Homo sapiens: one gene and its partners. The protein of the gene in region 1 purifies or fractionates together with the protein of each later gene. This does not show direct contact. Each region holds a gene or a part of one and is shown in the gene's direction. Other genes may lie near its edges.

What was found.
Region 2: the proteins of TPRA1 (region 1) and CLN3 purify together in Homo sapiens (affinity purification with mass spectrometry; one large-scale study listed by BioGRID and IntAct). This does not show direct contact.
Region 3: the proteins of TPRA1 (region 1) and ATP13A3 purify together in Homo sapiens (affinity purification with mass spectrometry; 2 studies listed by BioGRID and IntAct, with this or other methods). This does not show direct contact.
Region 4: the proteins of TPRA1 (region 1) and SLC30A5 purify together in Homo sapiens (affinity purification with mass spectrometry; 2 studies listed by BioGRID and IntAct, with this or other methods). This does not show direct contact.
Region 5: the proteins of TPRA1 (region 1) and SLC30A6 purify together in Homo sapiens (affinity purification with mass spectrometry; 2 studies listed by BioGRID and IntAct, with this or other methods). This does not show direct contact.
Region 6: the proteins of TPRA1 (region 1) and SNX13 purify together in Homo sapiens (affinity purification with mass spectrometry; 2 studies listed by BioGRID and IntAct, with this or other methods). This does not show direct contact.
Region 7: the proteins of TPRA1 (region 1) and TMEM143 purify together in Homo sapiens (affinity purification with mass spectrometry; 2 studies listed by BioGRID and IntAct, with this or other methods). This does not show direct contact.

What each region holds. Positions count from the first base shown.
Region 1 is NC_000003.12:127,577,234-127,580,733, reverse strand, and holds part of TPRA1 (transmembrane protein adipocyte-associated 1), read left to right. Parts: intron 1-570; coding exon of another isoform or gene 571-587; coding exon 588-712; intron 713-861; coding exon 862-994; intron 995-3,500.
Region 2 is NC_000016.10:28,485,575-28,489,074, reverse strand, and holds part of CLN3 (battenin), read left to right. Parts: intron 1-412; coding exon 413-484; intron 485-1,333; coding exon 1,334-1,413; intron 1,414-1,533; coding exon 1,534-1,619; intron 1,620-2,424; coding exon 2,425-2,497; intron 2,498-2,584; coding exon 2,585-2,728; intron 2,729-3,500.
Region 3 is NC_000003.12:194,428,003-194,431,502, reverse strand, and holds part of ATP13A3 (polyamine-transporting ATPase 13A3), read left to right. Parts: intron 1-276; coding exon 277-399; intron 400-480; coding exon 481-560; intron 561-1,187; coding exon 1,188-1,230; intron 1,231-1,321; coding exon 1,322-1,431; intron 1,432-1,728; coding exon 1,729-1,825; intron 1,826-2,585; coding exon 2,586-2,658; intron 2,659-3,500. UniProt on the Homo sapiens protein: ATP-driven pump involved in endocytosis-dependent polyamine transport. Uses ATP as an energy source to transfer polyamine precursor putrescine from the endosomal compartment to the cytosol.
Region 4 is NC_000005.10:69,114,514-69,118,013, forward strand, and holds part of SLC30A5 (proton-coupled zinc antiporter SLC30A5), read left to right. Parts: intron 1-723; coding exon 724-894; intron 895-1,412; coding exon 1,413-1,701; intron 1,702-1,880; coding exon 1,881-2,089; intron 2,090-2,725; coding exon 2,726-2,883; intron 2,884-3,500. UniProt on the Homo sapiens protein: Together with SLC30A6 forms a functional proton-coupled zinc ion antiporter mediating zinc entry into the lumen of organelles along the secretory pathway.
Region 5 is NC_000002.12:32,168,864-32,172,363, forward strand, and holds part of SLC30A6 (zinc transporter 6), read left to right. Parts: intron 1-2,423; coding exon 2,424-2,510; intron 2,511-3,500. UniProt on the Homo sapiens protein: Has probably no intrinsic transporter activity but together with SLC30A5 forms a functional zinc ion:proton antiporter heterodimer, mediating zinc entry into the lumen of organelles along the secretory pathway.
Region 6 is NC_000007.14:17,888,495-17,891,994, reverse strand, and holds part of SNX13 (sorting nexin-13), read left to right. Parts: intron 1-359; coding exon 360-449; intron 450-1,510; coding exon 1,511-1,632; intron 1,633-3,206; exon of another isoform or gene 3,207-3,435; intron 3,436-3,500. UniProt on the Homo sapiens protein: May be involved in several stages of intracellular trafficking. May play a role in endosome homeostasis. Acts as a GAP for Galphas.
Region 7 is NC_000019.10:48,332,941-48,336,440, reverse strand, and holds part of TMEM143 (transmembrane protein 143), read left to right. Parts: intron 1-2,243; coding exon 2,244-2,433; intron 2,434-3,007; coding exon 3,008-3,222; 3' UTR 3,223-3,500.

The sequences.
Region 1 (3,500 bases):
AGCTCTGGCCCTCAGCAGCGCTGTGGCCTCACACAAGTCAGTGGCCTCTGAGTTCTGCATGGTGTGGCAGGTCAGAACCATGGCTGACCGCTACCAAGAACTCCTCACGTGTGTGCCTTGTTTGAGGCACTCGGCATCACCACAGCCTCACTTGTTACACCCATTCCATGGTGGGGGGACACAGGCACGGAGAGGACAGGAAGGAAGGGGCAGGGCTGGGCTGTGAACCCAGAGCCTATGCTCTTACCCACGCTGCTCTCATGGGCCCTCAGGACTGAAAGGAGCCAAGTGGCTGTGCCTTGCACATGGAGATGCTTAGCTGAGGGGGTGGCTTTGTTAGACTATTTGCAGGTCGTGAGATAGAGCCTGAGATGGGGGACTGGGCCCCTGCCTGGGGGATTGGGTCGTGACCTGTGTGGAGCCCCACACTGAGCTGCAGTGGGTGGGGAGGGTGGTTTACAGGGGTGCTCTGTGCAGCCCCTCTGATTTTCCCCTGGGAGTCCCAGGTCCAGGGGAAGGAGGACAGTGGCCCAGGCCACACAGCTCACTGGGCGGCTCTCACTCCCCCAGGGCTGGCTGCTGGCGGGATGGACACCCTGGAGGAGGTGACTTGGGCCAATGGGAGCACAGCGCTACCCCCACCCCTGGCACCAAACATCAGTGTGCCTCATCGCTGCCTGCTGCTGCTCTACGAAGACATTGGCACCTCCAGGTGAGGCAGTCACAACGCTGGGCAGGCTCGCTGAGTGTCAGTGGCTTTTCCTGGTGTAGGGGGGTGGTGAGGGTGGGGCAGATTGTGTCTTGGAGAGGGGGTGCATATGTGGCCTCGCCAGTGAGCCAGCTCCTGTGCCCATCCGCCAGGGTCCGGTACTGGGACCTCTTGCTGCTCATCCCCAATGTGCTCTTCCTCATCTTCCTGCTCTGGAAGCTTCCATCTGCTCGGGCGAAGATCCGCATCACCTCCAGCCCCATTTTTATCACCTTCTACATCCTGGTGAGTTCACTGCAGTTGACAGAAAAGCCAACTCCAACTGGGTTAAACAAAAAGGGAATTAACTGCTTCTATAATGAAAATAAGCTTCAGGTATGGCTGGATCCAGGCAGTTAAATGATATCGTTAGGATCTGTTTCTGCATCTCTGATCTCTTTGGGACTTATCTCAGATGAGTTCCCCTCATATGGTGTCAAAGATGGCCAGGAGCAACTTTGAGCTAACATCCTGCCTCTACAACTCAGGCAAACAGTGCCTGTTTGCTGATAGTGCCAGTGTAGACCTGGGATTTCCTCTGACTGGCCCACCTAGGATCCCATCCTCATCCCTGAGCCAAGCACTGTGGCTAGCAAGGAAAGGGGCACTGTGAAGCTGGGAGGGCAGCATCAGCTCAGCTGGACCATATGGACTGAGGGAGCCCACAACAGAATTGGGGAGCTGGTACTAGAGGGGAGGGGAATGGATGCTGGGTGGGGAAAATGCCCACTGCATCCTCCATCCATTCGTCCCCCATCTGTCCATTCTGTGAAACCTCTTTGGAGAAGACATCTTACTTGCTGGGAGAGCCTGCATTGTCACCACTTGGTGGTCCTGGCACGTGTTGCCTGGGGAGAGGTGTCAGGGCTGTGGTTGAGAAGGCAGCTCCAAATGTGGGCTCTCCTGGTATAGGCTCCAGGTGTGGGCTGTCCCAGTATAGGTGCCAGGTGTGGGCTTCAGGTGTGGGCTGTCCAGGTGTGGGCTTCGGGTGTGGGCTCTCCAGGTGTAGGCTTCCGGTGCGGGCTGTCCTGGTGTGGGCTTCGGGTGTGGGCTGTCCAGCTGCCTTCCTTCAGGGCGCCCTTCCCCTGTCTGCAGGGCCTGCCTGACTGGAGTCCTCCCTTCTCTGTGGCCCTTAGATACCACCACATGAGAGCTGAGTGGCTCCCTGGTCCCCTCCTTGTGGTCTAGCCCAGAACTTCCCAGTCAGAGGAGTGGGCTGTGGGCAGGCAGAGAGACAGACAAGGGGCTGGGGAAGCCTGGAGGTTGTAGTGGCCTGATGTCCCTCACACCTACAAGATGGTGGTAGACAGGACTGGGAACTGAGGCCTGCTTTCTTTGCTTCTCTCCCACTGCTTCTCTCACCATTTATTCATTTGTGTATTTATTCAACAGATATTAAACACCTACTGTATGCTAGGCAGATGTCCTTTTGTGGGGTAAGGGGGAGTGCAGGCAGGGAGAAAGAGCCAGGGCTAAATGTCCAGGAACATATAACAGGGCCCAGCCCATCAACTTTTGGGGACTTTGTCCTAAAGAGTTCAGGAGGCAGTGTTAAGAGTGGACTCAGGAAGTCCAGCTCTGAACCCCAGCCATGCTGCTGTGTGACCTGGGGCCAGTGGCTTGGTCTCTCTGTGCCCCAGTGCCCTTCTGCATAACAGATGTTGATCTGCTTTAGCTATGGTGTTCATGTGAGCACCTATGAAGTCGTCTGCATAGCTGCAGCCCAGTGGGAGCCTGGCATACAGTAGGCGTGTGGTAGTTTGTTGCTTTTACTGCCTGCCCTGCTGACACAATTTCTCATGGCACAAAAGACAGAGTATATATGGATCTGGGCATGTGTCAGAAGACCCAACTGAGACTCACAGAAGCCAGTTTTTGACTGAGAAACTGGGCAGTTCCTGGGCCTCAGGCACAGCAGGATTTGGGGGCACAGCAGTGCTGCTGGGGCACCATCTCCATCTCCCACTCAGCCTGGGATCTCCCCGATGGCCCTGCTCTCTCGCCATCTGCCCTTGTGGCAGCAGGGTGGTGTCCATGGTGCCAGGCTTGCATGCTGTCCGTCTGCCTTTCCCAGCAGCCCCACCTGACATCCTGGGTCTCTCTCACAAGGCTCCCTTGGGGCCTATGCCCTTCCCTGAACTAGCCCTGAGGCCAGGGGAATGGCACACACCACTGGCCAGTGCTGCGTCCCAGGCCCATCCCTGAAGCCAGGAGCGGTGGACTCAGCCTCACCTGGAACCACCGAAGTGGGGGTGAGAAGGGAGAGGAAGGGGATGGATATACCAGGCCGATAAGCACCACAGATGCTGAGCAGGCACTTTGTGAAACCTGCTGGGCTGGTGGCTTCCCTAGAGGTCTCTGCACCTCTTCTCGGTGACCTTTTGCCTGGTCCCGCATGCCTCAGAATTAAAACCATGAATACGGTAATAACAGCAAATGTATACTTGGCCCTTCCTGGGTGCCAGGCAGGCTTCTGCTGCATCTGTTAATCCATTTGACCCAACAATCAAACACAGTAGGTTTTGTTTCTGCCCCCATTTTATAGATGAGAAAGCTAAGGTACAGAGCCAGGAAGCAGCAGCGTGCTGCTTGTGATGTGAACCTGGCCCATCTGGCTCCACCATGCGCACTCCTGCTCACCAGCCCAAGGCTGTTGGTGCTAGCCAGGAAGCTGGGGCCCCGAGAGGGAGGGCCAGGCTGGAAGTCACCTGCAGTTGAGGGTCTGCAACTCTGTGAGCCTTGCTTCCTGGAG
Region 2 (3,500 bases), on another chromosome or scaffold:
CAAAAACTACCTGGGTGTGGTGGCACACACCTGTAGTCTGAGCTATTCAGGAGGCTGAGGCAGGAGAATTGCTTGAAGCCAGGAGGTGGAAGTTGCAATGAGCCAAGATCACACCACTGCACTCTAGCTTGGGCAACAGAGTGAGACACCATCTCAAAAAAAAGAAAGCTCTTGAATGTGTTATCTAAACAAAGTCCATTTACAGGGCCATCTGTGGCCTGTGGTCTAGTAGTGTGAGACTCATATGGAAACCCCCTCTTCATTGTGCATGCAGAGACGCTGAGGTCCTGAGAAGTCAGTCACTGCTGACCCAAAGCCATCCTTCAAGTGAAGGCAGAGCTGGGACGGGAGCCAGGCTCTGTGTGTCTATCCCTCTGCCTCCAGGGTGAAAGACATGCTTTTCTCCCATTAGGTGGACCCAGGCCCAACGCCGATCCCCCACAACAGCTCATCACGATTTGACTGCAACTCTGTCTCTACGGCTGTGCGTACTCATCTCACCTGGTCCTTGCCTGACCCAGGGCCCCTGGGTCTATAGACCCCACTCCCAGCCCTTCACTACCCAGCTGGGACTGTCATGATTAAAACAGTTGAGACCTGGGCTGGGCGCACTGGCTCACACTTGTAATCCCAGCACTTTGGGAGACCAAGGTGGGAGGATCACTTGAGCCTAGGAGTTTGAGACCAGCCTGGGCAGTATAGTGAGACCCCCATCTTAAAGAAAAAAATTAAAAAATATATATATATAAAATAATTGAGACCTTAATATAATTTCTGAGGCTGAGGCGGATGGATCACTTGAGACCAGGAGTTCAAGACCAGCCTGGCCAACATGGTGAAACCCCATCTGTACTAAAAATACAAAAATTAGCCAGGCATGGTGGTGCACGCCTGTAATCCCAGCTACTCAGGAGGCTGAGGCAGGAGAATCACTTGAACCCAGGAGGTGGAGGTTGTAGTGAGCCAAGATCGAGCCACTACACTCCAGCCTGGGTGGCAGAATGAGACTCACTCTCAAAATATATATATATATAGTTTCTGAGTCCTTTCTGTCTGCACCATATATTAGCTCATTTAAGCCACACAGCAGTCCTGTGAGCTAGGTGCTATGATATTCCCATTTTCCAGATGAGGAAACTGAAGCTCAGAGAGTATAAACTCTTGACACACAACTAAGGAGTGGGAGAGCTGAGACTTGAACCCAGGCGTGCCTGACTCCAGAGCCTGTGTTTGTAGCAGGCCTGTTTGGCCAGCTCCTGCCTCTCCTTGGCCACGTGGTTGGGAGGGTTGTCCCCTGGAAGCTCTGCGGTCTCACTCTATTCTCCTGTCCCAGGCTGTGCTCCTGGCGGACATCCTCCCCACACTCGTCATCAAATTGTTGGCTCCTCTTGGCCTTCACCTGCTGCCCTACAGGTCTGGGTGAGGGTAGTGGGAGGCAGGGTGGGCAGGAGCTGAGAAAGGGGAGGCTGGGATGGCTGAGATGCTGAGAGTAGAGACCGACCTTCCCCCTCCCTTCCCTTCTCACCCCCTCAGCCCCCGGGTTCTCGTCAGTGGGATTTGTGCTGCTGGAAGCTTCGTCCTGGTTGCCTTTTCTCATTCTGTGGGGACCAGCCTGTGTGGTGAGTGTGTGGTTCTGTGTCAGATGGGGAGCCCCGAGGAACCACATCAGAGCATTTGTGGGAAGAGTCTCCCCAGCCTCCCAGAGGAAAGGGATTCATTCTGTCACCCTTAGAAGCCTGCTAGGGCTATCAGCAGTAGGCGATGGGAGACTGGGACAATTTGGAGGGGTAGGCAGTGGAGGAGATGGGAGAAAATGGATGAATTAGATGGAGATTGAGGTGAACAAAGTCAAGACTCTGTGATGGACCAGGCACAGTGACTCATGCCTATAATCCCAGCACTTTGGAAAGCCAAGGCAGGCAGATCACCTGAGGTCAGGAGTTCGAAACCAGCCTGGCCAACATGGAGAAACCCCGTCTCTACCAAAAATACAAAAATTAGCTGGGTGTGGTGGCAGGAGCCTGTAATCCCAGCTACTCGGGAGGCTGAGGCAGGAGAATCTCTTGAACCTGGGAGGCAGAGGTTGCAGTGAGCCGAGATCACGCCACTGTACTCCAGCCTGGGTGACAGGGCGAGACTCCGTCTCCAAAAAGAAAAGAAAAGAAAAAGACTGATGAAGGGGCAGAGACATCAAGGGTGCATGTCTGCCCCTGGTCTGATAACTGGGTGGATGGAGGTGCCACTCTCCATGAAGGGACACGCAGGGGAGTGGGGCTCTGCTTCAGACCTGGAACCTGGCCTATGCATGGGATCTATTGGAGCCTCTATGAGCTGATACTGAGGAGGCCATGGCCAGACACATTAGAGGCCTGGGCAGTGTGGCAAGGTGTGGTGTGACCATCCCAGTGCTTGTCCTCCCCCCAGGTGTGGTCTTCGCTAGCATCTCATCAGGCCTTGGGGAGGTCACCTTCCTCTCCCTCACTGCCTTCTACCCCAGGTAAGCAGGTGGAGCAGGGAGTGTGGGGAGAGGCTGTCCCATGGTCAGCCTAGGTCCTCCTGAATGTTCCTGTGTTCTCCTTCCCAGGGCCGTGATCTCCTGGTGGTCCTCAGGGACTGGGGGAGCTGGGCTGCTGGGGGCCCTGTCCTACCTGGGCCTCACCCAGGCCGGCCTCTCCCCTCAGCAGACCCTGCTGTCCATGCTGGGTATCCCTGCCCTGCTGCTGGCCAGGTGAGCTGCCCTGAGCCGGGAGGGAGAGGGGTCCAAGGAGAGAAAACTTGGCCATGGCTGGGTGTGGTGGCTCACGCCTGTAATCCCAGCACTTTGGGAGGCCAAGGAGGGCAGATCGCCTAAGGTCAGGAAACCAGCCTGGCCAACATGGTGAAACCCCGTCTCTACTAAAAATACAACAATTAGCCAGGTGTGGTGGCGGGTGCCTGTAGTCCCAACTACTCAGGAGGCTAAGGCAGGAGAATCGCTTGAACCCCGGAGGCAGTGGTGGCAGTGAGCCGAGATCGTGCCATTGCACTCCAGCCCGGGCGACAGAGTTAGACTCTGTCTCAGGAAGAAAAAAAAAAAAAGAAAGAAAAGAAAACTTGATTATGATTGCAATCTTCAAGTCCCTACCTTGCTGTGAAGGGAGGCGGAATCTGGACTCTGATAGCCCCAGGTGTGAGTCCTGGAGCTGCCACTTTTTAGCTTTGTAGCGTTGAACAAGTTACTCCACCTCTCTGAACCCTCAGTTTCCCCATATCTCAAATGGCAGTTGTTCTTGCTTTCCTTGGAGGTGATGAGGGTAATGCATTCAGCACAGTGTGGTTCCCAAGGTGATTAGAAGTAGGATGAGGGTGGACTTTATTTGATTAGTTCCTTTTTTTTTTTTTTTTTTTTTTAATCAGTGTTGACCAGGTTGGCCTCGAATGTGTAGCCTTGCCTGCCTGAGTGCCAGGGCAACAGGCCTGAACCATGGCGACTCCCTTTTTTTTTTTTTTTTTTTTTTTTT
Region 3 (3,500 bases), about 67 Mb from region 1:
GTTTTAAAGTACAAGAATTCCAGATGTTTATCGTATTCTTCAGGTAACTAGTGGTAAATGATGCAGGTGGTCCATCATACTCAGTTCATGCATCATTTCAAATTGAAGCTGATATTTAATTGAGTTTCTTTTTACTTTGAATAAATGTCCGGCTTTCATCATGTTGTGGAACATATCAAATGAAAGAATTCAGTTTTAGAACAAATATGTTTAAAATAGAATTGTTTTACTTGGTTTGGTTGCCTAAATATTGTTCCCAATGTCTCATATACACAGGCTATTCCGGTTAAATTGGTCCATGATAGCTTAGAGGATCTTCAAATGACTCGTTATCATTTTGCAATGAATGGAAAATCATTCTCAGTGATACTGGAGCATTTTCAAGACCTTGTTCCTAAGGTAAGTAATTTGGGTGTATGTGTGTGCTCACATGAATGCATCGCAACAGTATTTTAAAAAAATTTGTATTATTGTTTCCAGTTGATGTTGCATGGCACCGTGTTTGCCCGTATGGCACCTGATCAGAAGACACAGTTGATAGAAGCATTGCAAAATGTTGAGTAAGTATTGGTGTCTTTTTTGGTTTTGGTTTTTGATGAATGATGGTTTCATTTCAGCATCAGAAAAATAATTTTTATATGTTTCTTATACTAATATTTCATATTTATATATATAATTGTGATCTATAAGATAGTTCAGAACTTTAAGTGCCGCTTTAAAAGAGTCTCATGTGCTTTTTATTTAGCTAAAGTACAATATCCACAGTTTTTTCTCTATGACTTCATTCTTTCAGGTGCTCTATCTTGATAGAAGTGGCTAATCATTTTAGTAAACAGTTATGTTTCAGGTTATTAAGGGATAAATTTTTACTGATAACGTTAAAAGTAGCCATACTAAAGACTGTAGGCACAAGCGCTTTGCTCTAAAGATGAGGAAATTGAGACACCAAAATGATTTGCCGATAATGTGACAGAAATAGGACAATAACCTAGCTCATTTCACTTGTGGTCTGGTGCTGTTTGCAAAGCAGCACACCTGTGTTCATTATAGTGAAAAGATTCATAGTTCCACTGGGGGAATCTTGGTGTGTTAGCTCTTTATAATACTGTAATAGAAAAGTCTTAATAAGTTAAATGTTTTGTAGTTTAAGAAATTAATTAAAATCTTAACATTGTTTTGTTTCTTAGTTATTTTGTTGGGATGTGTGGTGATGGCGCAAATGATTGTGGTGTAAGTATAGTTTTTGTGATTTAGTTTTATAGTTCTTACTCTAGCCTAAATCATATTCACAAAACTTAACCAGTTTTCTTAAAATTATTAGGCTTTGAAGAGGGCACACGGAGGCATTTCCTTATCGGAGCTCGAAGCTTCAGTGGCATCTCCCTTTACCTCTAAGACTCCTAGTATTTCCTGTGTGCCAAACCTTATCAGGTAGTACAAATTAAAATTTTTCTCATCCCTTTTTCTCTGTCTCTGATAATACAGAAGAGAAAATTATCATAAAAAGTAACATGAATTTGTTTAATATTAGCAGATTAGCACATTTGAGCTGTAACTTATTAGTAACAGATTGATTGCTACTCCTCATTTGGTTTAGTTCTTTTGGTGGATAAGCACTTTGTTGTAGCCGTTGAATGTTGATGTTCATCTGTCAAGATAAAATTGTGGTTTGGAAAAGGAGTTTAAAATGCTTCTATTCATATGCCGACATTTGATTTCTTTTCACAGGGAAGGCCGTGCTGCTTTAATAACTTCCTTCTGTGTGTTTAAATTCATGGCATTGTACAGCATTATCCAGTACTTCAGTGTTACTCTGCTGTATTCTGTGAGTATTAACATTGTGTGCAGAGATAACACTTAATGTGCACCGTAAATTAAGATGTTGAGCGTATGTGTTTGATTTTGAATGCATCCATTAGTAATTGTTTCTGTGAGTAGTACCTATAAATTTACCTTCAATTTACTGTAGTTTGAATAGCAAATTGAAAAAGTTAAAATGAGAAAAGATGTTTCAACAGTGGTTTGTTGAATTTGGAGAATGGTTTGCATTTGGAGAAAAAGTATAAACAGCGATGGCCACAGGTACCCTATCAGATTTTATAATCAAAGTGTTCTGACATCCTAAAGACTCATGGTGACACTATCCCATTTGACCGTTTGTAGAAAGTATCAGAAGGGATGGTATTAGATGAAGATACTAATTTACAACGTTGAATATTTTGAGTAAATGTTTGTGTTTTCTTTTTGCCAAAAAAACCATGTTGGCCAGGGTGGTCTCGATCTCTTGACCTAGTGATCTGCCCGCCTCGGCCTCCCAAAGTGCTGGGATTACAGGTGTGAGTCACCGCGCCCAGCCTATTGAACGAATTTTAAGGAGATGCCTTTTATACTAATATACTAAATCAAATATTTATAAATATATGTTATATTTAGTTTCAGAGACACTTATATTTCAATTTTTAAGCAGGTCCGAGTGTCATTTTTAAGTTGTCATTATAGGGAAAATCCAAACTATTAATAAAACCTGGGGACGCTATAAAAATAATTCCCAAAAACTAATAATGTTTTTAAAATTACTTCTGTAGATCTTAAGTAACCTAGGAGACTTCCAGTTTCTCTTCATTGATCTGGCAATCATTTTGGTAGTGGTATTTACAAGTGAGTATTTTGCTTTGTTATTGATTTTTAAAGTGTATGAAATTCTGATGTGACTTATTAAATTTTTGTAAATTTACATCAACAATTGTAACATAGCTCACACCTCTCCAGATTCCTTGTAAATATGTTATTTTATTACCAGTTGTTTATATCTTGCGCCAATTTTTTAATTGTTCTGTCTCTATTTTTTTCCCTGAAATATTTGAAAATAAGTTTTGAGTCATTATGCTCTTTTGCCTCTGACAATTTTAGTATATATTTTCTAAAAGCAAAACCATTCTTTTATGTAACTAAATACAGTTGTAAAGATCAGGAAATTTAACATTGATATAATATCTGGTGCAAAACCTATATTCAGGTTTTGTCATTTGTGTCAACAATGTCCTTTATGCCTATTTTCCCGTAGTCCCCTAGATTAGAACAAAAAATATCTCCAGACATTGCCAGATGCTCCTTTGGGGTGCAAAATCCTCCAGTTGAGAACCACTTATCTTTAGTAGATGATAAAACTAGTGAAAGTTTGATGAGGAGCAGGATTTTCACAGTCTCAAAGTATCTTTTCACAAGGTGCTAGTTACAAAGGGAAAAATAGAAATTTCTTTTTTTCTTTTTTTTTTTTTTTTTGAGACAGAGTCTGTCTCTGTCACCCAGGCTGGAGTGCAGTGGCACGATCTCAGCTCACTGCAACCTCCGCCTCCCGAGTTCAAGCGATTCTCCTGCCTCAGCCTCCTGAGTAGCTGGGATTACAGGTGTGCACCATCATGCCCTGCTAATTTTTATATTTTTAGTAGAATCGGGGTTTCACCATGTTGGCCAGGCCAGTCTCTAACTCCTGACCTCAA
Region 4 (3,500 bases), on another chromosome or scaffold:
CTAACAGGATCAAAAGATTCTGAAAAGTTGTAGCAACTATAACTATAAAGGTACATTTAAAATAAATTATCAGCTGGGCCCAGTGGCTCACGCCTGAAATCCCAGCACTTTGGGGGCCAAGGCAGGTGGATCACCTGAGGTCGGGAGTTCAAGACCAGCCTGACTGACATAGAAAAACCCCATCTCTACTAAAAATACAAAATTAGCCAGGCATGGTGGCACATGCCTGTAATCCCAGCTCCTCTGGAGGCTGAGGCAGGAGAATCACTTGAACCCGGGAGGCCGAGGTTGCAGTGAGCCAAGGTCGCGCTATTGCACTCCAGCCTGGGCAACAAAAGCGAAACTCTGTCTCAAAAAAAATAAAATAAAATAATTATCAGTAAGTTATAACATTGCCGGCCATTTAAGTAGTTACGTAATTGAGTATATGGGAAAAATATACTAGTTCCATTTCCTTAAATATTATGTTAGCATGGTGTGGTGGTGTGTGCCAGTAGTCCCGGCTACTTGGGAGGCTGAGACAGGAGGATCTCTTTGATCACAGGAGTTTGAGGCTGCAGTGAGCTGTGATCATGCCACTATACTTCAGCCTGGGTGGCAGAGCAAGACCCTGTCTCTGGGGAAAAAAAAAAAAAAAAAAAAAAAAAAAAAAGATCATGTATTTAACGACTGACTGTTGAACTGTGTGTGTTTCTAATGAGACTTATCTAATTTTACTCACAGGGTGGAGTATTATTGCTAGTACTGGCTTTGTGTTGTAAAGTTGGTTTTCATACAGCTTCCAGAAAGCTCTCTGTCGACGTTGGTGGAGCTAAACGTCTTCAAGCTTTATCTCATCTTGTTTCTGTGCTTCTCTTGTGCCCATGGGTCATTGTTCTTTCTGTGACAACTGAGGTAAGATAAGAGCAAGAATTTATTGGTATTAAATTGCTAGTAAAATGAATTGCTATTAAATTTTTAGTTCACTGTATTCAATAAATTATATTTTAATTTGAGGTTGAAAGTGGCTTAAATTGTCTTTGCTTTTTCTTTGTAGTTTTTTAAAAAAAATTTGGAGTTAATTTTATTGTTTATAGAAAATACAAATCAAATGCTATTACATTTACATATCCCTCACATTGCTATGGCCCAAAGGAATCATTTGAAGAAGGAGCAATTAACCATGTGTTAGGCTTAAAGATTGTGTGTCGCCTAGTGTTCATCGAATGATTACACAATAGTGCTTTTGTTTTTTAAAACTTTGGAGAATACTGAGAAAATGTACCAATATCTTATAGCTTTTATATGTTGGCATATTATGAATCATATTGAATCATGCGATTTTTATTTTTTTAAAAGATTAACAGAAACATCTTGTAAGATGTGAACTTTATACATGTATAGTCTTGACAATTCTTTTTTTTAATTTCTAGAGTAAAGTGGAGTCTTGGTTTTCTCTCATTATGCCTTTTGCAACGGTTATCTTTTTTGTCATGATCCTGGATTTCTACGTGGATTCCATTTGTTCAGTCAAAATGGAAGTTTCCAAATGTGCTCGTTATGGATCCTTTCCCATTTTTATTAGTGCTCTCCTTTTTGGAAATTTTTGGACACATCCAATAACAGACCAGCTTCGGGCTATGAACAAAGCAGCACACCAGGAGAGCACTGAACACGTCCTGTCTGGAGGAGTGGTAGTGAGTGCTATATTCTTCATTTTGTGTAAGCATTCCCCCCTTTTTTTTATTTTAACAAATTTCTATTTATGGATTTTGATGGTCACATCATTTACTTATTTTGGGAAATTCTTCAGTGCTTGCATTTAGTGCCGACAGTTACTGTGTTGGTTTTGGTAGCTTAAACTTCGAAAATTTAAACAATATTGTTTTTTCTCTTTGTAGCTGCCAATATCTTATCATCTCCCTCTAAGAGAGGACAAAAAGGTACCCTTATTGGATATTCTCCTGAAGGAACACCTCTTTATAACTTCATGGGTGATGCTTTTCAGCATAGCTCTCAATCGATCCCTAGGTTTATTAAGGAATCACTAAAACAAATTCTTGAGGAGAGTGACTCTAGGCAGATCTTTTACTTCTTGTGCTTGAATCTGGTAAGATTTTTAAATGTTAATTGACATATCCTAAAAGCATAATATTTTAATTTTGACAGTTCTGGTATAAGTTTAGTACTTCCCAAATTTCTGATAATAAGATGAGCTAAAATTTAAATTTTTTCTAAGTATAATAGCAAGATTACGAGATCATATTCAGATTCCTTAGGCAATCCTTAAGGCATGTGCCACCGTGCCCAGCCACTTAAGCAAACAATTTGTGAGGCATTTTAGAAGCATTGATTTAGTATGTTCCTTCAAATCAGTAAATATAGTAGCATTTAAAGAGTTCTAATAACTTACAGGATCTCACTATTAGCAATCAGTGTTATAAATCACCTATTGCTAACATTTTATAACCTAGTTTATTATTTTTATAGACATATAAACAAAACCATTTTTAAATAGTTTCTAAAATGGATTTATCTTAGTTTTTTACAATTTAATAGTTTGTAAAATGGGTTTATCTTAGTTTTTACAATTTGTGTGAAATAGGGTTTCTAATGTAAGTGGCAGTTAAATAACTAAACAATTATAGCAGATCTTCAAGTAAATTTGGATAATTAAGGGTTAAAATCCTCCTAATTGAAACAGTGCCCAACATACTCCTCCCTTTTTTTTTGGTGACATTTTTAGCTTTTTACCTTTGTGGAATTATTCTATGGCGTGCTGACCAATAGTCTGGGCCTGATCTCGGATGGATTCCACATGCTTTTTGACTGCTCTGCTTTAGTCATGGGACTTTTTGCTGCCCTGATGAGTAGGTGGAAAGCCACTCGGATTTTCTCCTATGGGTAGGTACATTGACTGTCGAGGTGGTATATCTTAAGTGCAAATTCCATCTTAAGGAACAGAATTATATTACTTATATTACTTTTAATACAAATAATTTCCAAATCTTCATTTTTAAAAAATGTGAAGTAAATAAGGGGATGTGAATCGGGCATTTGATAAATACTGAATGGAATTAAGCTCAAAGATTATGCTCCCTTGGCCGAGCACAGTGGCTCACGCCTGTAATCCTAGCACTTTGGGAGGCCAAGGCAGGCGGATCACCTGAGGTCAGGAGTTCGAGACCAGCCTGGCCAACATGGTGAAACCTCGTCTCTACTAAAAATACAAAAATTAGCCGGGTATGGTGGCACGCACCTGTAGCCCCAGCTACTCGGGAGGTTGAGGCAGGAGAATCGCTTGAACCCAGAAGGCAGAGGTTGCAGTGAGCCAAGATCGTGCCACTGCACTCCAGCCTGGGCAACAGAGTGAGACTATGTCTCAAAAAAAAAAAAGACAGGGCCAGGTGCGGTGGCTCACGCCTGTAATCCCAGCACTTTGGGAGGCCGAGGCGGGCGGATCACAGGGTCAGGAGATCGAGACCATCCTGGCTAACACGGTGAAACCCCGTCTCTACTAA
Region 5 (3,500 bases), on another chromosome or scaffold:
ATTCTGATAGCAATGGCGAGCCAATATAATTTTGGGAAGAGTGATATGACATTAGGATTTTTGTTTTATTTTCATTGTCAGGATGGCATCAGAAGTGGCTTTCTGCCTCTTAGAAACCTTGTTGATTCTCTTAACCTGAAACTTAAAGTTGGCTAGGGTTAAACAGAAGATGTCCAAAATAACAGTATTAAGGAGAATTTTTTAAATCTTTGGAACCAAAATAACTCACACATAATTCTTTAAGAAAAGAATATATATACATATGTACATACACATATATATAATATTTATACATATGTACATTTATTTATGTATTTATTTATTTATTTCGAGATGGGGTCTCGCTCTGTTGCCCAGGCTTGAGTAAAGTGTGAACCTGGCTCACTGCTTGACTTCCCGGGCTCATGCGATCCTTCCACCTTGGTGTCCTGAGTAGCTGGGACTACAGGCATGTACCACTATGCCTGGCTAATTTTTTTCTTTTCAATTTTTTTGTAGAGACAGGGTCTCAGTATATTTCCTAGGCTGGTCTTGAACTCCTGGGCTCAACTGATCCTCCTGACTCAGTCACCCAAAGTGGTGGAATTACAGGCATGAGCCACCATGGCCAGCCAAGAAAAAGATATATTTATTGGCTGGGTGCGGTGGCTCACGCCTGTAATCCCAGCACTTTGGGAGGCCAAGGCGGGCGGATCACGAGGTCAGGAGATCAAGACCATCCTGGCTAACACGGTGAAACCCCGTCTCTACTAAAGGTAAAAAAAAATTAGCCGGGCGTGGTGGTGGGTACCTGTAGTCCCAGCTACTCCTTCACCGCAGAATGGGGCTGCGACAGAGTGAATATCCTGTTTGCCGTGTAGCCTATATTTAAAATCAGACTGTCCTCCTCAAAAGCAGCTGGAACTGAGGTTCAAGAGATGGATGTGACTGTGTATAGGGAGAGGCATACCATTTTTATTTTTAAAGTATCAAGAGAAATCATGATTTCACATTAACAATACAAAGTTGCAAAAGCAAATGTGAATAATGAGCAGGTACTGATTTGGCCAGCTTTATAAATGTGTAACTTTTAAAACTGGGTTATTCATCTTTTTAAAAATAGTTTGTGGAAGCTCATTGTGTATAGAGAAAATTGGCCTATTGTCTGTTGTGAATTATAGTTTTTTTTCAGTTTGACCTTCTTAAAGTTTTTTTCCCCCTTAAGGGTATTACATTCGCCCATGAAATTATATAGTAAAATCAATCAATTTTTTTCCTTTAGAGCTTCTTGGGTTTTATGCCCTATTAAGAAAGGCTTCCCCCAACTCCCAGATTATAAAATAATACATCTAGACTTTCTTCAGTCAAGTACTCTATAAATCTGTATTTTATTTTTAAAAATAACAACAGAGTAAGGAGTAACGGTAAGGGTGAAACATTACCTTGATCAAAATACCATTTATTGACTGGCTTATATTTTCTCCCAGTGATATTGGATACTGCTTTTCTCATAAGTTAATTTCTCATATGTGTTTGAACTCTCTGTTCTGCTAAGGCTTTCCCATGTGATTTCCTAAACTTGGGTGGTTAATCCCCTCTAGTTGCCACTTGGTCTCCTCTCTCATTGGTGAGCCCTATCTTTACTATCCCCAAACTAACTATACACTAGCAGGGGCCAGGGAGACTAGCCAGGATGTCAGATACTTTGACTGAATGCCTAAGAGAGAATCTCAGGGGTTTTACTATAATAGTTGCCTGAACTTACTTTCTTTTTGAGACAGAGTCTCACTCTGTCACCGAGGCCAGAGTGCAGTGGCACAATCTTGACTCACTGCAAACTCCACCTCCCAGGCTCAAGAGATTCTCACGCCTCAGCCTCCTGAGTAGCTGGTATTACAGGTGTGCACCACCACACCCAGTTCATTTCTATATTTTTAGTAGAGACAGGGTTTTGCCATGTTGGCCAGGCTGGTCTCAAACTCCTGGCCTCAAGTTATCCCTCTGCCTCGGCCTCCCAAAGTGCTGGCATTACAGGCATGAGCCCCAAGCACAACCACATATATAGCTTTAATTAGGTGAATTTTCAGTAGAAATTTCCAGTAGAGCTATTTGGCAAACTATTTCTTTTTCAGTTCAAGTTGCCTTATCCATTTAAAAATAAAGAGTGTGGTCTGGAGCTAAAAAGCCTGGGTTTGAATTTCTGCTCAGCCATTTACTAGCTCTGTGACTTTGGATGACTTACTAAAAGTTGTCTCCACCACATAGGTTTATTGTGAATATTAAATCCATAAATACACATAAAGTGTCTAGAATAAGTGCTTGATGTATATTGAGTACTTAATAAATATTGGTTATTTATATCATAGGAACCACTATATCATATCATAGGAACTCTGAAGATGATTAAATATCTAAATGCTGATTTGTATATGTTTGTTTGAAAGGGGACAATTCATCTCTTTCGAAAACCACAAAGATCCTTTTTTGGCAAGTTGTTACGGGAATTTAGACTTGTAGCAGCTGACCGAAGGGTAAGTTATTCCTTAACCCCAATTTTAATTATTGCACAAACAACATTATAACATTGAAGAAAGATAATTTTTAAGGCCAATAGAAATCACTCCTGATCCTGCCACACTGTTTTCATTTTTCTATGTTGGAAAAGTATTTTTTTAGTGTAAAATTGCAGTTGTTTGGTGTTAAGTTGTTTTACTTTGGTAGGAAGCTTCTGTTAAAGTTTTGATTCTAATTCTGAAGTGTTTTAAAGAAAAATGGTTTTGTGGTTGCTTTTTGTTATTAAGTTTTCAAAAAATTAAATGGATCCAGTCTAAAGCCATGTTTTCTCTTTTATTTATTTTTTTTTTTTTGAGATGAAGTTACACTCTTGTTGCCTAAGCTGGAGTGCAATGGCATGATCTTGGCTCACCGCAACCTCTGCCTCCCGGGTTCAAGCGATTCTCCTGCCTCAGCCTCCCAAGTAGCTGGGATTACAGGCATGGGCCACCACGCCCGGCTAATTTTTTGTATTTTTAGTAGAGATGGGGTTTCACCATGTTGGTCAGGCTGATCTCGAACTCCCGACCTCAGGTGATCCGCCCACCTCGGCCTCCCAAAGTGCTGGGATTACAGGCGTGAACCACCGTGCCTGGCCCATGTTTTCTCATTTTTAATGTAGGGCAAGAAAAATATGTTTTGAGACTGTAAATAAAAAGATGTAATTGCCATCCTTTTAGGCCACCAATGTAAACCTTCTAGTTACTGTGTTTCATGCTTCTCATTGTTGTCTAAATGATAAACTCTCTGAGGGAAGTGACTGTCTCTATTTTGCTCACCTTTTTATAGAAGTACAATATAAACATTCAGTAAATATTTGATGACTTTTAAGTAAAGCCAGCTTCAATGAAACAATAATAAGCAGTACCAATGGGCACTCCAATTGAAACTCTGCCATATTTTCACTATTTTTCAACTCCGTTATCCTCATTTGCTTCCTTATCCAACTTAGATTCTATGCTCCATCA
Region 6 (3,500 bases), on another chromosome or scaffold:
AAAGGGGAGGGGCAAGAGGGAGAGTGTCCAGTAAAGACAGTTTGACTCACATGAAACACTAATTTTATAGTTGTAGAGTTTCATTGAAATATGGCAGCAGCATACCTGTACATTTGCAGTTTTCCCACATTCTAAATAATTTTTGCTGATTAAATTTTTGAGGATAATCATTTTTTTGGGAGTGTCTAATTTTGTTAACTTGAGAAATAGTGTTTGGCTTATAGAGTAGCACCTCAAATAAGGTTATTTATTTACTTGAGGATAATGAAGGGATGTTACATTGAGTATTCAACTGGAATTAAACTGGAGAGATTTTACATCAGAAAACTACTCAGTAAGATATTTTGATTTCCTTTAAGTGCTTAGAAGAAATGAAACGGGAAGCCAGGACTATTAAGATTGATAGAAGATTGACGGGTGCCAATATAATTGATGAACCTCTCCAGCAAGTGAGTTTCAGCGTGTGGTATTTGAATTCTATATATTGTGTTCTAGGTATATTTCTTTTGAAGATACCAGGAAATACTTTTTGCTCTTTAAATAATATCCTGGAATTTCTTAATGTTATCCTTGAATTTTATACTTGAAGATGCTTCCTTATTTATTAACTCACTTCTAATGAGGTGGTTTACTTTATGTAAAAGCCTTTCGATTGAATTTGGATTTAGAAAAAAAGTTGTTATTGACATTTGATAGTGTTTCTTAAAATTTTACAGTTAAAGTGTTACTCTTTCGTTGATGAACAAGCTTAGTGGTGTGGTAAATCAGACTTTTTTTCCTACTTGTTACCTTTTAAAAAATGGAAAAGAAATATCCGATGCAAAAACATTAAAAAATTAGAGATAGGTAAAAAAACTATGCCCCCTGAAATATTTTTCATTGATGTTTGATTATATGATTATAAAAATGTGTACTTTAGAATTTTAACATTTATTATTATTACTAATATTTAGTTTATCTGATTTGTAAAAATTATACATTGAGTTGTATTATGTACTATTTATTGTCTGAATACTGTTGGCAGTATCAAAGGTATTAGTAGAAATAAGTGAACTCCTGTATCATTTTTATAATTAGACTGCAATGGATCTGATGATATAATCTTTAAAAAAACTTTTTTTGTGGAATTATAGTCTCTATTATTTTACATCTCATTCCATTAAACTGATTGATATTATTTATTAGATTATAGCATGGAAAGTTTCTTTTTTTTCTGCAAACCCTGTCTTTACCTGGATTTATGTGGGACTTGGCCATAGATAGTGTTTTATTTTATTTTTTTTTTTAAATCTAGGCAGTAGGTAAGTTGGGATACCAGAATAATTTAAAAATGTTTGAAATGGTTTTTAGTATGTTGATGTTTTTGTAATGAGGGCAGGTATTTACCACCATAAATTAATACGTAGAGAGTAAATATAAATTGGTAGATACAGCATACTTTTTTAGTTTACCACTGTAACTTTTTAAATCCTAAAATGTTGTAATTTTTTTTCCAATATTTTTGTTATAGGTTATCCAGTTTTCCTTGAGGGATTATGTCCAGTATTGGTATTATACACTAAGCGATGATGAATCTTTTCTTCTTGAAATTAGGCAGACTCTTCAAAACGCACTCATTCAGTTTGCTACTAGGTAAGGACACGACATTGTATTTATGCAGAAAAATTTAGATGTATGGTTTGTACCAGTAAGGAAAACAACTTTTAAGGGGAGGAATTGTTTATTAAAAGGTAAGTAGAACAGCAGATTATTACTGTGGGATAACTCCAAGATTTTACAACTAGAGCTCTTAAAACCTTTAAATTACCCCAGATTTTAGGTTTTTACAGAATGTTATTTTGATTAAGCCCTGCTTTCTAAGTCTGTTTGGTAGTTTTTTCTTTAGGGTCCAAATCAGGTGACTTTTCAAATCTGTTACCCCACTTATTGCTACTTCCCCCCTCCCCCTTCCCTAGACCCTCTGTTTTATGTGAGTGCTATGAAAATAGATTAGTTTCAGTGTAACTGCTCTTCTCCACATAGTTTTGCTGTAACCCTTCTCCTAATTATGACACATATCTATTGGAAGTCCTCTTGGACGAGAAGGGACCAAAGGAACATAAGTCAGTGGAAAATATTCAAGTTTATATTTTTCAGAAAAGAAGTATATTTTGGTGAGTTTGTTTTAACAAACTTTTTTTGTCAGATATACTAAAATTCTTACTTTACAAACCAGCTATATACTGCTTCCCATATGATGAAAGTGTTTTGACTTCTATTCTTGTACTTAAACTGCTTGATTTTTTTTGATGGGAGGCTATTTCACACCTGTTTAAATTATGTTTACTTTCATTTTTATTTTTGAAGGCTTTTTTTCCCCTCCATCCTTGATGTCTAACTTTTTGAAAGCCTTTTAATGGGCAACGTTATGTGAAAGGGAATACTTGTGTTCTAGAAATTATTTATTTTTGAAAGAAAGATTTTATGTTTGGATGAGTTTGTAGATTTTTTTTTTTTATTCCATTAAAATATGTTGCTACCATCACACGCAAAGATTGCCCTGCTAGGTATTTCCAGCCATGCTGCCCTCTCAGGCCCTTTCCTCTATCTCCATTGATTATAAAGCTTTAGATTTGGAGTTGGCTAGAGGAAGGGCATTGGATGTGTTTCCCAACCTCATTGGGGAGCCTGGCACAAGTTTTATGATTTGAACAATAATTGTTACAGAGATAGATTTGTACTCCTCATCCCTCGTGATTAGGAGCAAGAATTTACAAAGTAGCCAGCCAGAATTACAGATGCAGACTCACTGTGGAACACAGAACATATAATTGGTATAATCAAAGAAAGTCAGAATTTGAATTTAATCTCTTTTATTTCATATGCACCATTATTGAGTGTTAGGTATTCTTTCAGATAACTCTTCTAAATATTTTTTATTGCTTTCTATAGCAACACTATCCTGATGACTTTTTTTTTCTTTGAAAGGGTGAGAATAGGAAGAATTCATTATTCTTGTGCCTGACTATTGAAAAATATATAAAAATGTGTAACACATTTTAGACCTGGGAAGAGATTTGAACTAGTAATCTGAAAACTTGAGTTTGCATTCTAGCTCCACCTCTAGCTATGGGACTGTGAGCAAGTGTCTTTAAACTCTGAACCTTGGTTTTTCTCATATGTAAAATAAGTGTAATAATAACTGCCCTGTTCTGTGTTCCTCTCAGGATAATTGTCAGGATCAAAATTCATCTTATTCAACTAATATTTTGGGCATACTTTGTACCAACCAGATGCTGGGGATACAGCAGTGAATAAAACAAAGTCCCTGCTCAGTGGAGTGAAATGAAATACCTGTGACAGTGTTTTGAAAATTGTGAAGGAATTTAGAAATTTAAGTTTTTATGCCATCCAACACCCATAATTTTACTGATGAGGAAGCTAAGGTCCAGAAAGGTAAAGTGGTTAGTCTAATGTTATCTAGTGAGTTAGAATCAAATTGTTCTTAAGTTTGGTATTTT
Region 7 (3,500 bases), on another chromosome or scaffold:
CGACTCTCCTGCCTCAGCCTCCCAAGTAGCTGGGATTACAGGTGCCTGTCACCATACCTGACTAATTTTTTTTTTTTGTATTTTTAGTAGAGACAAGGTTTCACCATGTTGGCCAGGCTGGTTTCGAACTCCTGACCTCAAGTGATCTGCCCGTCTCGGCCTCCCAAAGTGCTAGAATTACAGGCATGAACCACCGTGCCAGGTCTAATTTTTGTATTTTTAGTAGAGATGGGGTTTCACCATGTTGCCCAGGTTGGTCTCGAACTCCTAACCTCAAGTGATCTGCCCTCCTCATCCTCCCAAAGTGCAGGGATTACAGGTGTCAGCCACTGCATCTGGCCTGGGCACAGTTTTTCAGTGGGAGCCCAGAGGGCACTGATGCCCTCATTTCTCCTTACCAATATCAAGGATGAGAAGAGGGGTCCAAGCAAAGAGACTAACGGTGGGGAAGTGGGCAGCCAGTAGACAGCTGGGCCCAGACCTGTTCTTCCCCCCAACATCCTTCCCCTCTCCTCTTCTCTTTACAATTTAACTTTTTTCTTTTTTTGAGACAGGGTCTCACTCTGTTGCCCAGCCTGGAGTGCAGTGGTATGATCATGGCTCACTGTAGCCTCAGCCTCCTGGGTTCAGGTGATTCTCCTGCTTCAGCCTCATGAGTAGCTGGGACTACAGGTGCTCACCATCACACCCAGCTAATTATTATTATTATTATTTTTTGAGGCAGAGTTTCATTCTTGTTGCCCAGGCTGGAGTGCAATGGCATGATCTCGGCTCACTGCAACCTCTGCTTCCCAGGTTCAAGCGATTCTCCTGCCTCAGCCTCCCGGGTAGCTGGGATTACAGGCATGAGCCACCATGCCCGGCTAATTTTGTATTTTTAGTAGAGACGGGTTTCTCCATGTTGGTCAGGCTGGTCTCGAACTTCCAACCTCAGGTGATTCACCTGCCTTGGCCTCCCAAAGTGCTGGGATTACAGGCGTGAGCCACTGAGCCCAGCCTGCTATTGTTTTTTAATTTTAATTTTTTGTAGAGATGAAGCTTTTGCCATGTTGCCCAAGCTGGTCTTGAACTCCTGGGCTCAGGTGATCCACCCACCTTGGCCTCTCAGCGTTGGGATTACAGGCCTGAGCCACTGCACTTGGCCTACAGTTTAATATTTTAAACCATTTTTTCCTTCATTATAGAAAAGTTCAAACAAACACAGAAATAGGATAGTATGATAAACTCCACTAGCCAGCACCTAGCATCAACAATTAGCAATAGTTAATCAGATTTCCCCTGAAGACCTCCACTGTCCTACTATTGGATGATTTTGAAGTAAATCCTACCTAGACTTATTTGGAAATACTTTATTATGTCTCTAAAACATAAGGATGTATTGTAACAAAATCTTTCAAAGCTAAAACTCCTATCATCTGCAAACCTTTGGGTAAATCCATTAATACATGGCTCAGATGAGCAAACCAGTGCAGTGGTTGCTGAAAACTGTAGGCCAGATGGGGCTGGTGGTCTTGGAGCCACTGGAATGAGGGCACGTGTGTTAAAAATACAGATCCCCAGCCGGTGCCTTGGGTCACGCCTGTAACCCCAGCACTATGGGAGGCTGAGGAGCGAGGATCACTCCAGGCTGGGAGTTTGAGACCAGCCTGGTCAACACAGGGAGAATCCCGTCTCTACAAAAAATATCGGGCTTGGTGGCGCACACCTGTAGTCCCAGCTACTTAGGAGGCCAAGGCGGGAGGATCGCTTGAGCCCGGGAGTTCAAAGCTTCAGTGCGTTATGAGTTTGCCTGTGAATAGCCACTGAACTCCAGACTGGGCTACAGGGCGAGACCCTGTCGAAAAAAAAAAAAAAAGGAAAGAAAAGAAAGAAAGGAAGGAAGGAAGAAAAAGAAAGAAAGAAAAGAAAAGAAAGAAAGAGAAAGAAAGAAAAGAAAGAAAGAACGAAAGAAAGAAAGAAAAAGAAAGAAAGAAAGAAAGAAAGAAAGAAAGAAAGAAAGAAAGAAAGAAAGAAAGAAAGAAAGAGAGAAAAAGAAAGAAAAAGAAAAGACAGACCCCAAAAATCCCCAAATAGATCCCTCGACTGAGCTCTGGGGACCCGTACTGAAGAGGTCTGGGTAGGACCTCCCCGCCTCCTCAGGGGAGTAAGCGGCGTGGGCCGTGCCAGCGGGGGTGACCCCGGGGGCTGTGTATGGGTGGGGGCGCACCCCGAACTGAGCCCACGGGGCGCTGTCCCGCCTGCAGATGTTCGGGCAGCGGCGCAGCGCGCAGGCGTTGGAGCTGGCGCACATGCTGTACTATCGCAGTACGTCCAACAACTCGGAGCTGCTCAGCGCCCTGGCCCTGCGCGCGCAGGACGAGCACACCAAGGAGGCGCTGCTGGCTCACAGCTTCCTGGCCCGGCGGCCAGGGGGCACTCAAGGCTCGCCCGAAGGTAGGACGTGGCCCTGGGACCCTGCCCCCAGGGGCCACACCCCCGCGAGGCCCCGCCCCAGCGAGATGCGTCCCCACCCCCAGTTCCCACGGGTGAACCTGACGGGTTTGCGAAGAGACCCCGGCCCTCAGCAGACAGGACCTCCGAATCCAGACTCCGATCTTGGTGCCTGATGTGACAGCCCTTTCTTAACCTCAGCCTGGTTGGGAGTCTTGGCTCCATGGCACGGCCCCCTCCTGTCATTCTTTCCTCTACCTGAGCTGACACTCTCCCTACAAGAGATCCTGCGCGCTCCCTGTGTGGGCTCCAGGTGGTCCCCTTGCCTACAGGAGCCCCCACCTTCCCTGCCCAAGAGCCCCTGACTGGTCCCCAGACGAAAGCCCCAGAGCTGGGCCTTCTGGCCCTCTCGACCCTCCTGGGCCTTGTTCCGCTCCCCTCCAAGCCTCAAGATCACTCCTAGGCTTCTCCCAAACCCAGGCCCTTCCTGTTCTTTGCCCTACGCCCCTCCTTGCTGCTCCCTCGAATCTTCCCCGATCTCAGTGTGACCTCAGAACACCTGCCTCTCCCCTTGCAGAGACCTCCAGGTGGCTCCGGTCGGAGGTGGAGAACTGGCTCCTAGCCAAGTCAGGCTGTGAGGTGACCTTCAACGGAACTCGGGCCCTGGCGCATCTGCAGGCCCTGACCCCCAGCATGGGATTGTACCCACCCCCGGGTTTCCCCAAACTAGACCCAGTGGCTCCGATCACTTCCGAGCCCCCGCAAGCCACGCCCAGCAGTAACATCTCCTGAGTAGAACCTACCTCCCTGCCCAGTCAGCAGGCTAGGAACTAAGCCCCGCCTCCTTCACGACAGGCTGTCAATTACGGTTATTATACTTTTCACTCCAACTTCCAATAACTGACAGGTGATTATTTTTGCTGCACTGTGTGCTTAAGCAAAGCAGCCAATCAAAGCAGCTAGCAGTTGTTAAGTCTTCCCCGCCCCTTCGATGAACAGCCAATCAAAGCGATTTAGCTCTGCTTCTGTTCCATTTCTTAGTCCCACCCTCACCATAAACATCCAAGTGT